Linked DNA regions of Homo sapiens: region 2 is linked to region 1. Evidence: fine-mapped expression QTL. A gene starts in region 1. The other region holds a variant in brackets. All regions are shown on one strand. Distances are between the middles of the regions. Region 1 holds the start of MORC2-AS1 (MORC2 antisense RNA 1). Region 2 overlaps OSBP2 (oxysterol binding protein 2).

Region 1 (9,170 bases):
TTCTCCTACAGGAGGAACAATGTGGGGATCTGAGGGATGGGAGGGAGACTTCCCCCTAGAGTGGTGGTCCTGCTGGGGGCTCATATCCAGGGACCCAAAAGGGGGGCTGTGTAGGAGGTTCCACATTGGAGGGGCTCTCTCTCTCGCAGCTGTCAGAGTTGGTCCTGGCTGTGGCGTCCAAACAGCTTGAGGGAAAAAGATCCTGTCTAACCACCTCATCTACTACTCAAGTTCTTTCTGAAGGAGGGATTTCTTCAGTTAACCATGGACAGTGAGGTTTCTCACCACAGTAACTTGAGTCCAGGTTGAGGGGGAGACAGATCTGTGGTAAATCTCTGACTTGGGCAGCACACTGAGTGTGGAACCCCACAGGACTCCTTAGGGAAGGAGCTTGTGTGTGAAAGAACCCCTGGGGCTGAGCTGGTGACCTCCATGTGTGGGTGCAGCAGGGCCTTGGATGGTGCCAATTGATCTGGACAGCCTGTTGATGCTTTTCTACTTCCACCCTTCGGCCTGGCCCCACTGAGCCCCATCAAGGTGCCTGAAGAGGGGGCCAGTGAGATCCCGTGGCCACAGGGACTCCAGAGGCATCTCTGCAGGAAGCACACCATGCCTTCCCTCCATGTTCCATCACGGCGCCACAATCTGTGTCCCTTAACTTCTCAGGGTCAAAGACAAAGGCAAGCGTTGCTGAATTTTCTCTTTAATGGCCATTGGAAGAGTCTGGTTCAGTTTTTCCCAACTCTCTTCCCACTCGTATTTGGGGCCTCTGGGTTTTCTGAAGGCACAAGGACTGTGACTTTGTACCACTAACCTGTGGTTCAAACCTGGGTGTGTTTCTGGCATCTCCCTAACCCAGATCAGCAATGGCCACCCTGCTCCTCTGAGGTCAGCAGAAGACTGGGAAGCAGAGGTGAGGGATGCAGGCCACACTGGAATGGGAAGTCTTTTCCCCACTGGATGTGCCTGTCTGGTGGGTTTTGGACCTTCCCAGACTACATCTCTAGGAGAGGCCTGTTTGGAGTAGTACACTGAGAGACCCTGGCCTCTTCTGCTGGAAGACTGTCCAAGTCTTGGGGTTTCTTGAGCTGGTGATTCCTCTGCCATCCTGCTCTCTCTCTTCATCTCAGGCAGCATGGGGTCCACTTTTGTCCCCAAACCTAATGTTTTAATCCAAATGCAAATTGGTTCCACATTTTTACTGGAGGGTAATCAGTTTTTAAAATTCACACACATGTAATCGAAACGCAATACTATAAAGTTCTACTGGTGAGACTCCTGAACTCAGTCTGTTTTCTTAGTAAAATCCAGCACCTTCCTTCTCTTCATTCTTTGTATCACTGTGGCTTTAAACTGTCTTCAAGTTATTCCTCCTCATCACCTCCATTGTTTTATCTTCACCCCCTTAACATCCACAGAAACAGACTGGAGTTCTTGAATGTTTTAGCTTCAACTTCTACATGTGCCCACTTTGCTTTGTTAATGCTACCACAGCTGTGCTGAATGAAGCCTGTTTCCCAGGCAGAGATCCTGCCACTCTGGATGGGAAGATAAAATGCAGGGGTCCTCTTTCCTGGTTTCCTGGGAACATCAAGGGACAGGTGACCAGCTTGGAACTCTTTGATGACTTGGAAGGAGGAAGATGGTCTGGCTGATCTGTGGTGAGAAGGTCCTTTGCACAAGGCTGCAAGAAAGTGAAGGGCAGCAATGCTGGTGTTTAAAGAACGAGAGGGGTGGGGACTCTAGGGTGTTTTGTTTGAGATGGGGGTCTCGCCCTGGTCACCTAGGCTGGAGTGCAGTGGCACGATCTTGGCTCACTGATACATCTGCCTTCCAGGCTCAAGTGATCTCCCACCTTAGCCTCCCAGGTAGCTGGAACCACAGGCACACACCATCATGCCTGGCGAATTTTTTTTGTATTTTTGGTAGAGTTTCGTCATGTTGCTTAGGATGGTCTCAAACTCCTGAGCTCAAGTGATCCACCTGCCTCGGCCTCCCAGAGTGCTGGGATTACAGTGTGAGCCACCATGCCTCACCTAGGGTGTTTGGTTTTTAAGTGAAACATGCACATGGTAAACATTAAAACCGTCTAAAAGGCTGGACCATGAAAAGCAAGGCTCCCTTCTCCCACCCAATCCCTGAATTCTCCCTGGAGAGTATCCCTCCTAAGTGCACGCACTTCCACTCTGTTCCATTTCTGCCTGTTAAAACTACTTAGTGCAGCTTAGTGTAGTGGAACCTGCTTCAGAATAACCCATATGGGTCTTCTTTATTCTCATGAACCACAGAGCATTTCATGTGTTGGATATATTGTCTCCTACTTACGGACATTTGGGGTTGTTTCTGTTTTTGTTTGTTTTGTGACGGACTCTTGCTCTGTCACCCAGGCTGGAGTGCAGTGGCACAGTCTCGGCTCATTGCAACCTTCACCTCCTGGGTTCCAGCGATTCTCCCCTCTCAGCCTCCCAAGTAGCTGGGACTACAGGTGCGTGCCACCATGCCCAGCTAATTTTTGTATTTTTTGGTAAAGACAGGGTTTCACCATGTTGGCCAGGCTGGTCTCAAACTCCTGATCTCAAGTGATTTGCCCGCCTTGGCTGGGATTACAGGCATGAGCCACTGCACCCGGCCAGTCACCATTTTCATCCGGTAACTTGCAATGCACCAGGCCTTACCAGGGCCACTGTTGGGTTCAGCGGACATTTCCTTCTTCAAGCTGGCAAGGCCTCAGACAAGTCACTGCCCATTTTGGCTCCTGTTCCTCCTCTAAAATAACGGAGTTGGGTGATGGCAGAGGCTTTCCAGCTTATTCAGCCTCAGGAGTACCTAAAATTTATCCAGAAGCCCATATGGAAAGCCAGGAGTCCTGGAGCTGCTCTGGTTGAAGCTAGGATGGGGGCCCAGAGCTCCCTGCTGTTCTTGACCCCCAAATCTTTGCTTCCAAGATTCACTGGCCCCTACCTGCTACCTGTAGGCCTTCACCTGCTTACTTGTGTCCGATGTAGGGATTATGGGCTTACTCAGCAGCCATCCTCATGGCCTAAACATTTGGCCAATTTCAGTGTCCCCGAAGGGTGAAGGAGGTCTGGGCTTCCATGGGGCCTGAACTGCAGGTACCTTCAGCACTTCCTGGGGTTCTGGACATGTCAACAGCTGCCCACCAAGGCCTGGAAGATAAGGAGGGCTCACACCACTAGTGCAAACTTGGATCAATGAGAAGGGAAGGATGCGACAGACGTATCCCTCCTCTTTTCTTGTCCCCTCTGGATTCTGTTGAGATGCTTCCAGGGATTCTCCGAGGCCCCTTCCTGCTCCAGTAACTGCAGGTTACTGGGGAAGCTGTGGCCAGCTCTAATCCCCTACTTTTTTTTTTTTTTTTTTTTGAGACAGTCTCGCTCTGTAGCCCAGGCTGGAGTGCAGTGGCGCCATCTTGCCTCATTGCAACCTCTGCCTCCAGGGTTCAAGCGATTCTCCTGCCTCAGCCTCTCTAGTAGCTGGAATTACAGGCGCGCGCCACCACGCCCGGCTAATTTTCGTATTTTTAGTAGAGATGGGGTTTCGCCATGTTGGCCAGGCTGGTCTAGAACTCCCAGTCTCGAGAGATCCATCTGCCTCAGCCTCCCAAAGGGCTGGGATTACAGACGTGAGCCACAGCGCCCGGCCTAATCCCCTACTTTGATTTACTGTCCCTCCCCACATCATTTCTTCCCTTATTGAAAGCTCTGGGTCCTCCCCAATGCCCCACCATGTAAACCAATCTGTCCTGCTGGGTTTGGGGCACCGCGGTGGGCAGGGGAGAACCCGTTTGTCAGAAGGTTCAGAGTTTCTGAGTTCCTCATGCTTAATCATCAGCGGCCACAGCACAACAGTGGCCGAGGGTGGGTTGTAAATTCTCACCTGGCCTAGAGGACGCAGCCACGACCCCAGCGCTTGGCCATCTCTGTAGAGGATTCGCGGGTGGACCATGCTTAGTCTAACAGGGTATGGTTATTAACGCCCGTTATGAACGGTTCATAACCAGCCAACGGTTATGAACTGTGGAGGGCTTCCGCAATCCCGCCACACGCTCGAGGCGGAAGCGACAAGACGCCTGCGTGGTTTTGCTGGCGCGCCGCACGTGCCCGTACCGTGACCTGCGCATGCGCTTTGGAAGCCTCGCGAGCTTCCTGCGGCACTCAGGGTTTGGTGCAGGTGCCTGTGGCCTTTGGGGGTTTCCTCGCGTCTTTTAGGTAGATGCTTCCAGGGATTCTCCGAGGCCTCTTCCTACTCCAGTAACTGCAGGTTTCTGGGGAAGCCGTGGCCAGCTCTAATCCCCTACTTTTTTTTTTTTTTTTTTTTTGAGACAGTTTCGCTCTGTCGCCCAGGCTGGAGTGCAGTGGCGCCATCTCGCCTCACTGCAACCTCCGCCTCCAGGGTTCAAGCGATTCTCCTGCCTCAGCGTCTCTAGTAGCTCCTTACAGGGAGAGCAATGGCCCACTCACACCCGAAACAGAGAAGCGAGGATTTTTTTTTTTTCCTGCAAGCTGCTGCGCATTAATTAAGTCAAAGTGCAGAAGAAATCTTTTCTACCCCGGCTTTCCAACTTTCCGGGGGTCATTAGGGAAAAACATTCGTTGAACAGATGTCCTTAGGGTCGGCGCTTTTATCTCTGAAAGGAAGAACACTTGGAAAGGAAGCTGCGTGTTTTTCCTCTTGCCCGGAAGAGCCAGCCTGTATGTCTCCCTTTTGACCCGAGGCCAAGCGCCTGAAGCCTCTTGGACTTAGTTAACATTAGTCCGTTTTCTATGCGTTTGTCCTTGGCTTGGTTTATGGTGTTTGTTGAAAGGTAAATGTTTTAAAGTTTTGGGGATTCCTATCATGCTTAGGGAAATCAATCCCCTTCTCTCTTCTCCCCTTCCCCCGATATTCTCTTACATTTTGTTGCAATGTTTATTATTTATTTTTTACTAGACAACCTATAGTCCTTATGGAATATATTTTAGTATAAGCTGTAAGGCAAGAGTCAAGCGTCTCCCGCCCCCAGGTGGAAATTAACTTATTCCAGCCCCACTTATTAAATGAGCCTCTTACTAAATGAGCCAACAGGTGTGGACCTGTTGAGTTTGAGATCCCGCTTAGACGCCAGTGGAGACATCTGTGGTCAGTTGCACAAGTGAGTCTGATGTGAGGGGTGAGGTTCTGGCTGAAACTATAATTTTGGGCGTCATCAGCATCTAAATAGATCAGTCTCCCTCACTTGTTAAAAAATGCTTTTCCAGTCTTAGAATGTATTCTCTCACATGAAATATTTAATCGCATTATCCAGTTCGTTCCCATCCCTGCCTAAAAGAAAGTGTTCCATTGGGATTTAAATTATAATTGCATTAAATTTAAATGGAAGTTTTGGGAGCATTGACATTTTTGTGATATTAATCCTCCCCCAGAGGATAAAAAATGGCTTTCCATTTACTCAAGACTTCTTTTAGGTCCTCCAATAAGATTTTATAAATTCTTTATACGGGTTCTATAACTTTCTGGTTAAAATTATTCCTAAGTGTTTTATGGTTTTTGTCTATTGTGATGGAATACTTTTTTCCATCTGTATTACTCATTGATTATTAATATGTAGAAAAGCTAATGATTTAATATAATTCACTTTCTGTCTTAGGAATTCTGGTAGTTTTAATAAGCCTGTTTTTTATAGATACAAATTTGCCAGTATACCAATTTATTTTGTCAGTTTGCTTTAGTTAGAACCTCTGAAACAATGTTGAATAATGATCCCGGGCTGTTTCTGATATGCGTGGAAATCCGCATGTGAGAGTTGAGCGGTGAGAGTTTCGGCAAGTGGCTTTTAAAATGTTGGGGTTTCCTTTAGTTTGTCTTGCGGCTGCTGGGACTCACCGGTAGTTGCCAGTCCTGCCTGAGTTGGGCGCCAGGGGGCAGCAGTCACACAGAATGAAACGTGGGCTGTGCCCCCTGGAAACTGGCTGAATTTTGTCAAATGCCTTTACACCTTCTATAAAAAAAAAAAAAACATAGAGTTTTCTCCTTTATGCTGCTGTTTTTATTTTCAATTAGACATTGAGTAGCTATGAAAGAATGCTGTATAAAATATTTGTAAAGGAGGCCTGAAGCGGTGGCTCACGCCTGTAATTCCAACACTTTGGGAGGCCAAGGTGGGCAGATTGCTTGAGCCCAGGAGTTGGAGACCAGCCTGGGCAACATAGCAAGACGCCATCTCCACATTAAATACAAAAATTAGCTGGGTTTGTGCTGAGGCCGAGGTGGGAGAATCGCTTGAGCCCGGGAGGTGGAGGCTGCAATGAGCTATGATCGTGCCACTGTACTCTAGCCTGGGTGACAGAGTGAGAAACTGTCTTTAAAAAAAAAAAAATTATAAAGCAGAAAAAGTATACATCAAACACCCATCACCTGGCTTGTTATATTATAAATCCCTGTGTGTCTTTCCTGGACCCCTTGTCTCCCTGCTCAGAGGTCACCATCATCCTGAATTGTGTTTATTACTCTTAGTATTTCATTTTATAATTATGTTTCTTTACTCTTCATTATATTTTTATGAGCTCTGTGTATTCCTGTTTTATTTTGCCCTAAGTGTTTTATTTTGCTTTGTTTTTGAACTTAGATGGACATAACGTTTTATTGTTTTGCGGTTTTCTTTTTTTTTATTTTCAACATTGTGTTCCAGAAAATCATCCATGTTGTTGGATGTAACTGTAATTTATTCATTTTCACTACTGTATAGTATTCTGGATGTTAACCTAAATAACAATAAAGAGAGGTTCTCAAAAGAAAATATACTTATTTAGGAACAAAGCATTGCAAATTTATGTATATATGTCTTTTCTTTTAGAGAGCCTCTTTGTTATTTGGGTTGCTACATCACTGCCGAATACTAGACAGTAATGAAAATGAATGAATTACACCTGCAATTGAACATAATACAATTTTAAATGCATTCCTCTGAGACTGGCAACTGTGCATTGTTTATGTCTCCTGTTGCATGTGTGCAGGACTTTCTCCCTGGGACAGCTGTCCCCAACATTTTTGGTACCAGGGACTGGTTTCATGGAAGACAGTTTCTCCATGAACTGGGGTGGGGGATGGTTTTTGGGATGATTCAAACGCATTACATTTATTGTGCACTTTATTTCTGTTATTATTACATTGTAATATATAATGAAATAATTATACAACTCACCATAATGTAGAATCAGTGGGAGCCTGAGCTTGTTTTCCTGGAGCTAGATGGTCTCATCTGTGGGTGATGGGAGACAGTGACAGATCATCAGGCATTCGATTCTCATCAGGAACATGCAACCTAGATCCCTTGCATGCGCAGTTTACATAGGGTTCTTGCTCCTATGAGAATCTAATGCCGCCGCTGATCTGACTGGAGGCAGAGCTCAGGTGGTAATGGGTAATGGGTAGCGGCTGTAAATACAGATGAAGCTTTGCCTGCTTGCCTGCAGCTCACCTGCTGTGGGTCTGGTTCCTAACAGGCCATGGACTGGTACCAGTCCGTGGCCTGAGGGTTGGGGACCCCTGCCCTAGGATATAAACCTTGGAGTAGAATTGCAGAGTCATAGTTCATGCCCATTTCCACTTTACTAGGTAATGCCAGAACCGGTTGTGTTAATTTTCACACTCATTGGCACTGGATAAGTGCTTTGTCTACTTTGTTGCCTGTGCTTGATATTGCTAGACTTGAAATGTTTTGCCAGTCTGATGAGGGCATAGTGGTATCTAAGTGTGGTTTAATTTACATTTTTCTGATTTCCAAAATGTGGTTGAGCACCTTTTCTTATATTTATTGACCATTTATTTTATTTATTTTTATTTATTTTTGAGACAGGGTCTTGCTCTGTCGCCCAGGCTGGAGTGCAGTGGCACAATCGCAGCACGCTGCAACCTCCACCTCCTGGGCTCAAGGAGTCCTCCTGCCTCAGCCTCCCAAGTAGTTAGGACTACAGGCATGTGCCACAATGCCTGGCTAATTTTTGTATTTTTCGTAGAGACAGGGTTTCGCTATGTCACCCTGGCTGGTCTTGAATTCCTGGACACAAGCGATCCGCTTGCCTCAGCCTCCCAAAGTGCTGGGATTACAGGCATGAGCCATTGTGCCTGGCCTTATTGACCATTTAGCTTTCTGTGATGAAGTGTTTGCTCAAGATTTGGGCCCATTTTTCTATTTTATCTTTTTCTTATTTGAATTTTGTATATTCTGGAGACATGTTCTTTATAAGTTATCTGTGTTGCAGATTTTTTCTCCTATTCTTTGGTATGCCTTCTTTTTTATTCTCTTTTTACAGAGTCTTGAGGACTAGGAATCCTTAATTAAAAATGTAGAATAATAATTTATCAGTCCTTTATTTATAGTTTTATTGTAACTTGTTTAAGAAATACTTCTTGGCCGGGTGCAATGGCCCACGCCTGTAATCCCAGCAATTTGGGAGGCCGAGGCGGGCAGATCACCTGAGGTCAAGAGTTTGAGACCAGCCTGGCCAACATGGTGAAACCCCAACCCTACTAAAAATACAAAAATTAGCTGGGGTGTGATGGTGAGTGCCTGTAATCCAGCTACTCAGGAGGCTGAGGCAGAAGAATTGCTTGAACCCGGGAGGCAGAAGTTGCAGTGAGCCAAGATTGCACCATTGCACTCCAGCCTGGGAGACAGGAGCAAAACTCCATCTCAAAAAAACAAAACAAAAGTAAGAAATACTTCTCTACCCTGAGGTCATGAAGATATTTTGTATTATCTTCTAAAGTCTTTATAGTTTTGTCTTTCACATACGGATGGTCCCTACCTTAATGATGGTTTGACTTAGGATTGTTTTGACTTTATGATGTTGTGAAAGCAATACCCATTCAGTAGAAGCTGCACTTTGAATTTTGAATTTTCATCTTTCTCCAGGCTAGCAATATTCTATAAGATATTGTGATGCCAGGCAGTGGCGGTGAGCTGCAGCTGTCAGCCACAAGGGTAAACGTTTGATACTCTATAGTGTACAGTGTTCAATAAATGATGTGAGATATTCAACACTCTATTATAAAAACAGGCTATGCGTTAGATGATTTTGCTCAACTGTAGGCTAAGGTAAGTGTTCTGAGCTCATCTAAGGTAGGCTAGGCTAAGCTATGATGTCCTGTAGGAGTATTAAATGCATTTT
Region 2 (8,000 bases), 20 kb after region 1:
GGCATCCGCCTCCTTCTCTGCTGGGCAGGCACAGTGGGCTGGTGGGTGGGCTTGTGGCCTGCTCCCCCGGAATCCGTCCCTGCGGCACCCCCACCCGGGCACCCCTTTCCTCCCCTCCGGGGCGCCCTTCCCGCCCGGCCTCACCTTCCTCCGAGCTGCAGCTGCTGCCCGGCCCGCAGGCCTCCAGCCGCCGGCGCCGCGACAGGCGCTGCTTCTCCTCCAGCCGCTGCTTCTCGGTATTGGCCTCGTCCCAACGGCCCTTCTCCATCAGCCGCTGGTCGGGCCGCAGGCGGCTGTCGGTTGGCGCTACGCCCTCCTCGTGCTCGTTGAGGGTCAGGGCCAGCTCTGAGAAGTAGTACATGTTCTCCGCGTTCTCCCTGTGGCGGTGGTGGTGGCGGTGGCGGTGGCTGCGGTGTGAGCCGGACCACACCTACCCGGCCGCCCTCCCCTGCCTGGCGGTGTCTCCTCCCGGGTCGCCTCACCCTCCAGCTCCCCGCGTCCAGGACTCCCTCTGGCCTTGGGCCCACCCCAGTGAGCCCACCCGGCGGAACCCAGTGGCTGCAAACAGCTGCCTTCTGCTCCCCACACCTCCCATGCTCACATGGCCAACCTGCCGCTGTTTTGCCACATTAGACTTATCTGGGAATTGCCTAGCTTAATATTTCTTGGCTTTTCTTCTTTTCTATTATGTTTTTTTTTCTTCTTCTTTTTTGAGACAGTTTCACTCTTGTTGCCCAGGCTGGAGTGCCTGGCTTTTTTAAGACAGGGTCTCCGCTGGGCACGGTGGCTCACGCCTGTAATCCCAGCGCTTTGGGAGGCTGAGGCCGGTGGATCACGAGGTCAGGAGTTCGAGACCAGCCTGGCCAACATAGTGAAAGCCCGTTTCTACTAAAAATTAGCTGGGCATGGTGGCAGGCACCTGTAATCCCAGGTAATCTACTCAGGAGGCTGAGGTGGGAGAATTGCTTGAACCCCAGGAGGCCGAGGTTGTGGTGAGCCGAGATCACACCATTGCACTCCAGCCTGGGCGACAGTTCGAGGCTCCGTCTAAAAAAAAAAAAAAAAAAAAAAAAAAAAAAGACGGGTCTCGCTCTGTGGCCCAGGCTGGAGTGAAGTGGCCTGATGCTTCGCTCACTGCAACCTCCGCCTCCTGGGTTCAAGCAACTCTCCTGCCTTAGCCTCCTGAGTAGCTGGGATTTCAGGGCATGCCCCCACACCCAGCTAATTTTATTGTATTTTTAGTAGAGATGGGGTTTTGTCATGTTGGCCAGGCTGGTATTGAACCCCTGACCTCAATTGGTCTGCCTATCTTGGCCTTCCAGAGTGTTGGGATTACAGGCATCAGCTACTGTGCCCAGCCCATATGGGGATTTTTCTAGTCATTTTTTTCTAGTATAATTGCCTTGGAGTCAGACAATATACTTGGCATAATTTCAGTCCTTTGAAATTTGCTTTATGGCCCAGTATATGGGCAGTTTTTGCACACGTTCCATGTGATTGAAGAGAACAGTTGTTGAGTGCAAGGTTGTATAACTGTCCAGCAGGCCTTGTTCATACTTTCTCTACTTGGGTTGTAGTTAGTCCATCTTTCCTAATGTGTGTATATATATATATATATTTTAATTATGTAAGCATTTCTTTTGTTGAAAAGATCCTTCAAAAAATACCATATCCATAGATTTACTTTCTGTCATATAGCTGAATGTGTTGTGTTTGGAATTCCATTCTTACATTTAAAAATCAACTGGATTGCCCAGAAGTTTAGATGCATTTGTTTTGTTTATCTTATCCATGTTGAAGATGTAAGTAGATGATCTGAAAGCATCAGGTTTGATTACACCACATAATGCATGTCTTTCTTAAGTATTGGTGTTACAGAAATGGTTCTTATCTCAGAAGCAGAGAAGCTGACAGGTGGAAGGAAGGAGAGAGAGTTCTGTGGATTGCGGAGGGCTTGTAACAAAGATACAGTAGGAGAAGCCAAGGATGACAGCTGGTGACCAATTACTAAGCACACTACACTGGGCGCCCCAGGCTGCCCTGCCATCACCCTGCAAGGGTCTCTTTCCTAGGCCCTTGCTGCCAGCCACCCCCCAACTGCTCCCCAAAGGGAAGACTGGGATTTGGGTACTGAAGGATTTTTCATCTGTTCACACGCGGGCGTTCAAGCTCAAAAGCCTAACCACTACCACTCCCAGGTAAGTGCTGAACCCTGCACATGGGAACAACCAAGTGTGTCCCCAAGATGCAGCCTCAGACCTAGACAGCTACAGTCCTATACGATCATCTGAAGGTCCTGACAGCTCTGCACAGTACAATTTCATTTATCAAGGGAAATGAGTAAAGTGCCAGATTCTAGACCCATTTTGGCTATGAATTGAAGGGGAGGTGGGAAGCACAGTATCTCATTATGTTGCCTGTACTAGGAACAGATAAACACAAACACACAGGCAACAGGGATTTGGGGAAACACCGTGTCAGCGCTGCAGTCAGCCAAGCGCAGTGCCGGCGCTATCCCCCAACCCTCAAAGTGCCTTGGCCCAGGAGAAAAGAAACCCGCTGGCCATTCACTGCAGCTGGCCAGAGAGGGGAACCTCGACCATGTCTGGTGAAAGGAGTGAACTCATTGGGACACAGCCTCGAAAAAGCAGTAACAAAAACACGTGAATGCCTACGAACATTCACTGTGTTTTCTCCGTGGACTCCCTACTGCTATTCCACGGTCTCCACTTTCAGCTCTCGCTGTTTCTCGTGTGAGCCTATCCCTTTGGACAGTCCACTTTGGGAGGGGGTCATGGAGCCAGGGCTCCCTCTCAATAGGAATGGAAAGGACCCTGCAAGAATCAACACCTATTTTTATCCTAGTTGTGAAAACAAGGTGCCTCCAATTCTCTATGTCCATCACAGCTGAATACCAACAAGGTGCAGTTCAGTCTGTCAGTGACTTCTGGTTTTTGTTGGAAGCCAACGCAATACAGAACTCAACATGCAGGTCAGAAGAGAAACACTGAGGAAGTGAAAGGAAACACCTGGAGTCGGGCCAATGTCTAAAGTAAAAAGAGAAAGCAAAGGAGAAAAATGATGCAGTACCGCAGCCCAAACGACTCCCCCACATGGCCACCTCCGATCCTCTGGGGAACCCCATGTGCTGCTAGGAAAACGAGCTGGGAGGAAAAGGACAGAAGGAAAATGGGGAAGCAGTGGTAGAAAGAAAAAAACGCACAAACAGGCACTAGATAGATACAGCAAAGCCCAGAATGTACTAAAAACCACTTGTTGACAGCTGGCATGCACTCACAACAAGCTGTGTTTCCACTGTGGGGAGGCCAGTGGCAGGTATGGGAGTGGAAGCTGCAGGAACATGGCCCAGGGGTTCACCAGGCTGTGGTCCTGCTCCAACCCCCCATGTTCCATTCCCTCCCAACCGCAGGCTCATTCTTGCTCCTTGTGAACGAATTCCACTCTGGGTCTGGCACCCCTGAAGATAGCAGAGTTGGGATCGGCTACTTCATTGAGGGGCGTCACAACATTCGAGGTTTAAGCTGGAGTCGTGGTCTTTGTGCTCTTCCCTCCTCTGTCGGTTCTTTGAAATCCATGTTGGATCGTGGAAGGGAGGACCATCTCTGAAGTGGCTGCCCAGTTGGGGGCCTGTTTCCCAGTCACCTGGGTGACTACCTCCCCTGCCTCCTAAGAAGTCATCCCTGAAGCTTCGTCATCTGGTACACCTTTTCTGAATCCAAAGCCACCTTTATCTTGTTTTCTGCCTTCTGCAATGTCCACATGAAGTGACTGATTGCCCAACAGTGCACCATCGTATGTCAAGCTTCCTTAAGGGAATCCACTTCATCGAATTCTATATAGCAGAATCCTTTAAATTTATCTGTGTCTTTGTCTCTGACTACCCGTACACTCCTTATGCTGAGATCCTTAAAGATAGCATCTATGTCGCCCTGAACCATATTAAAAGGTAGATTCCCTACATATGCTGTGTG[T/G]GGGGCTCTGTGAGCGACTCCTTCTGGCTACGGGAACCATGGCCACCAGTACTGCCGTGGGACCCTCTGTTTTTTTTTTTTGGTTTTTTTTTTTTCGTTTTTTTTTTTTTTCTTATATTGCTAAGATTTACCTACGTTGCTTCATGTTACTGGGGTTTAGTTTTAGCTACTGTATATATTCCTTCATGCGAATGTACCACAGTTATTCATTCAATAAATTTGTGTTGTTTCCAAGTTTTTGTTATTGGAATAGTCTCATGCATAAGTCCTGTTGTACATTTGCAAGAATTTCTCGAGTATATTTTTACAAGTAGAATTACTGGGTTATGACTATGTGATTGTTCATCTTTTTTTGTGGGGGGACAGAATTTCACTCGTCGTCCAGGCTGGAGTGCAGTGGCACCATCTCGGACACTGCAACCTCCACTTCCCAGGTTCAAGCACTTTTCCTGCCTCAGCTTTCCGAGTAGCTGGGATTACAGGTGTGTGCCACCACGCCTGGCTAATTTTTATATTTTTAGTAGAGACAGGGTTTCACCAGGTTGGCCAGGCTGGTCTCGAACTCCTGACCTCAGGTGTTCCACCGGCCTTGGCCTCCCAAAGTGCTGGGATTACAGGCGTGAGCCACCACGCCTGGTGGAAAGCCAAACTGTTTTCCCGAGTGTTGTACCAATTTACAACTTTTGCCAGCAGCAATGTATCAGAGATATTGTAGCTCTACAGCTTCTTCAACATACATGTTTTTTATGTGATGACTGGCCATATATGTTTTTTCTGCAAAATTCTTGTTCATGACTCTTGCACATTTTCCCATTATTTTTACATTAATTGTTGATTAGAAGTTCTTTATGTGGGCTGGGCATGGTGGCTTTTGCCTGTAATCCCAGCACTTTGGGAGGCAGAGGCAGGCAGATCACCTGAGGTCAGGAATTTGAGACCAGCCTGGCCAACATGGCAAAACTCCATCTCTACTAAAAATACAAAAATTAGTCGGGCGTGGTGGCGCACACCTGTAATCCCAGCTCCTCAGGAGGCTGAGGCAGGAGAATCGCTTGAACCCGGGAGGCGGAGGTTGCAATGAGTCGAGATCACATCACTGTACTCCAGGCTGGGCGACAGAGTGAGACTCCATCTCAAAAAAAAGTTCTTTATGTGATCTTTTAAAAATTTTTATTTTTAACTATGATAAAATACTCTGTATTCTTGATAATAATCCTCTGTCAAGTGTAGGTAGATATTATGATTACCTTCTCCAAGTTTGTTTATGCATCGTCTTTTCACTTTCTTTAAATTGCCTTTTAGTGAGTAAAAGTTCTCAATGAACAAAAGTATTTTAATATGGTCAAATATATGAATGCTTGTGTCTTAATATTTCCTTAGGGTCTAAAAGATATTTATCCTTTTCAACTTATTAAGTCATTGTTTACAATAAGTCAAACAATATTACTGTAAGGCCATTATTTGATTTTCTTTATAACGTGAGGGAGGGATTAAGTGCATCTTTTTCCATAGGGATTCATTTGGTGAGCCATTCCATCTTCCCACAAGATCTGATATGCCACCTTTGTCATATATCAGAGGTACATATATCCATGGGTCTGTTTCTGGGCTCACTAATCTGTTCCATTAGAGTTTCAAAATAAAAATCCTGGTATCTAGTAGGGTAAGTCCTCTCTGGTCTTCTTCAGAAATGTCTTGGCCCTTTATTCCTCAATATAAATTTAAAAATTCTAATATCAAGTTCCATGAAGGTCCCTATTGGGGTTTTGTTTGATTTACTGACTTTTTAAATCATGACATCTTTACAATACTTTCTATCCGTGAACATTATATCTTTCTCCATTTATTTAGCTCTTCTTTGGTATCTCTTATTAAAGCTGTATAATGTTCTCTATAGAGGTCTGGATTATATTAGATTTATTACAAGGTCCTTGATGTTATATGCTGTTAATTTTTTTTTTTTTTTTGAGATGGAGTTTCGCTCTTGTTGCCCAGGCTGGAGTGCAATGGCATGATCTTGGCTCACCACAACCTTTGCCTCCTGGGTTCAAGTGATTCTCCTGCCTCAGCCTCCAAAGTAGCTGGGATTACAGGCATGCGCCGCCACGCCTAATGTCGTATTTTTAGTAGAGATGGGGTTTCTCCATGTTGGTCAGGCTGGTCTCAAACTCCCGACCTCAGGTGATCTGCCTGCCTTGGCTTCCCAAAGTGCTGGGATTACAGGCATGAGCCACTGCGCCCAGTCTTGGTGTCTTATCTTAAATTGCATTTTTCTAGTTGTTTGCTGAAATGCAACTGGCTTTCGTATATTAATCTTGTATCTAGGCACCTAAAATGATTTTTCTGAATCTATTGAAATCTGTTAATATGATTACTCTATGGATTTTCTAATATAAAATCATTCTATATACCCAGGATAAATTCAACCTGATTATAGGATGCTATCTTTTTTATACACTGTTGGATTGGATTTTCTGATATCGTTTTAGATTTTTGCTTATATATTTATTAATATAAGTGAAATAGGGTAGAACTTTTATTTTCCTACTGCTAGTTTAGCCTAATTTGGTATGAGGGTTATCCTGGCCTCACAGTTTAGGAGAGGTGAATATTTCCTTTTTCTATGATCTGGAACACTTTATATGAAATTGGAATAATATGTTTCTGAAAAAATAGGGAGAATTCATCTGTAAAATTATCTGGGCCTCGTGTTTTCCTTACAGTAATTTTTAAACTATTGCTTCAGTTACTTTATTATAGGACTATTCATGTTTTCAATTTCTTCTAGAGTCAGTTCTTTTTCTTTTTTTTTTTTTTTTGAGATAGGGTCTGCTTTGTCACCCAGGCTGGTATGCAGTAGTAGTCATGGCTCACTGCAGCCTCGACTTCCTGGGCTCAAGTAACCTTCCTGCCTCAGCCTCCTGAGTAGCTGGGACTACAGGTGTGTACTACACATGTGTACTACAGGTGGGACTACACATGGCTAATTAAAAAAATTTTTTTTTTGTAGAGACAGGGTCTTGCTGTTGCCCAGGTTGGTCTTGAACTCATGGGCTTAAGCAATCCAACTGCCTTGGCTTTCCAAAGTGCTGGGATTATAAGCATGAGCCACTGTGCCCAGCTAGAGTTAGTTCTTGTTATATTTTTCTAAGAATTTGTCCCTCCAATCTAAGTTTTAATTATGTCTTTATACTTTATATGTCACATTAAACCTTTTTCATTAATATTTATTTCTATCTTGATCAGTCTTGTCAGTAGTTTTCTATTTTGACAGTTTTTTTATGCCTCAAAGAATCAACTTTTGGCTTTGTTTTTTTAATTGATTTCTGCTTTTATTATTATTATTATTATTATTATTAATATAAAGATGATATCTTGCCATATTGCCCAGGCTGGTCTCAAATTCTTCAACTCAAGCAATCCTCCCGCCTCAGCCTTCCAAAGTGCTGGGATAATAGGGTTTGGCTGTGTCCCTACCCAAATCTCATCTCAAATTGTAATCCCCACATGTCAGGGGAGGGACCGGGTGGGAGGTGATTGGACCATGGGGGTGGTTTCCCCCATGCTATTCTTGTGATAGTGAGTGAGTTCTCACTAGATCTGATGGTTTTGTAAGCAGCTGTTTCCCCTACTCTCTGCTCTTTTCCTGCTGCCTTGTGAAGAAGGTACTTGCTTCTCCTTCACCTTACGCCATGATTGAGTTTCCTGAGGCTTCCCCAATCAATCAGGCAGAACTGTGAGTTAATTAAACCTTTTCTCCTTTATAAATTACCCAGTCTCTGGTGGTATCTTTATAGCAGTGTGAAAATGGAATACAGGAGATTATAGGCATGAACCACCACGTCTAGCCAAAATTATTATTATTTTTTGAGACAGGGTCTTGCTCTGTCACACAGGCTAGAGTGCAGTGGTGTGTTCACAACTCACTGCAGCCTCGACCTCCTGGGCTCAAGTGATCCTCCCACCTCAGTCCTCCTGAGTATCTGGGACTACAGGCATGTACCATCA

What was found. PIP is the estimated chance that this variant, and not a neighbour inherited with it, causes the effect.
Region 2: its variant is fine-mapped to the expression of MORC2-AS1 in whole blood (TOPMed, PIP 0.99).

Annotation. Positions count from the first base shown.
Region 1 is chr22:30,917,243-30,926,412 of GRCh38, reverse strand. It overlaps MORC2-AS1 (MORC2 antisense RNA 1), which reads right to left and starts at 4,105. Exons shown (of 2, transcript NR_026920.1): 1 at 3,898-4,105; 2 at 1-1,684. MORC2 (MORC family CW-type zinc finger 2) reads left to right here. Exons shown (of 26, transcript NM_001303256.3): 26 at 1-1,283. LOC107985544 (a long non-coding RNA gene) reads left to right here and starts at 4,634. Exons shown (of 3, transcript NR_146603.1): 1 at 4,634-4,825.
Region 2 is chr22:30,898,214-30,906,213 of GRCh38, reverse strand. It overlaps OSBP2 (oxysterol binding protein 2), which reads right to left. Exons shown (of 14, transcript NM_030758.4): 13 at 145-377; 14 at 1-17. All of the region lies in intron 2 of LOC107985544 (a long non-coding RNA gene), which reads left to right. It also overlaps the pseudogene EIF4HP2. Among named protein-coding and RNA genes, the nearest start is that of MORC2-AS1, 20 kb to the left of the region's middle. RefSeq lists an enhancer at 2,874-2,973. The variant T/G (reference allele first, on the strand shown) is at 3,993.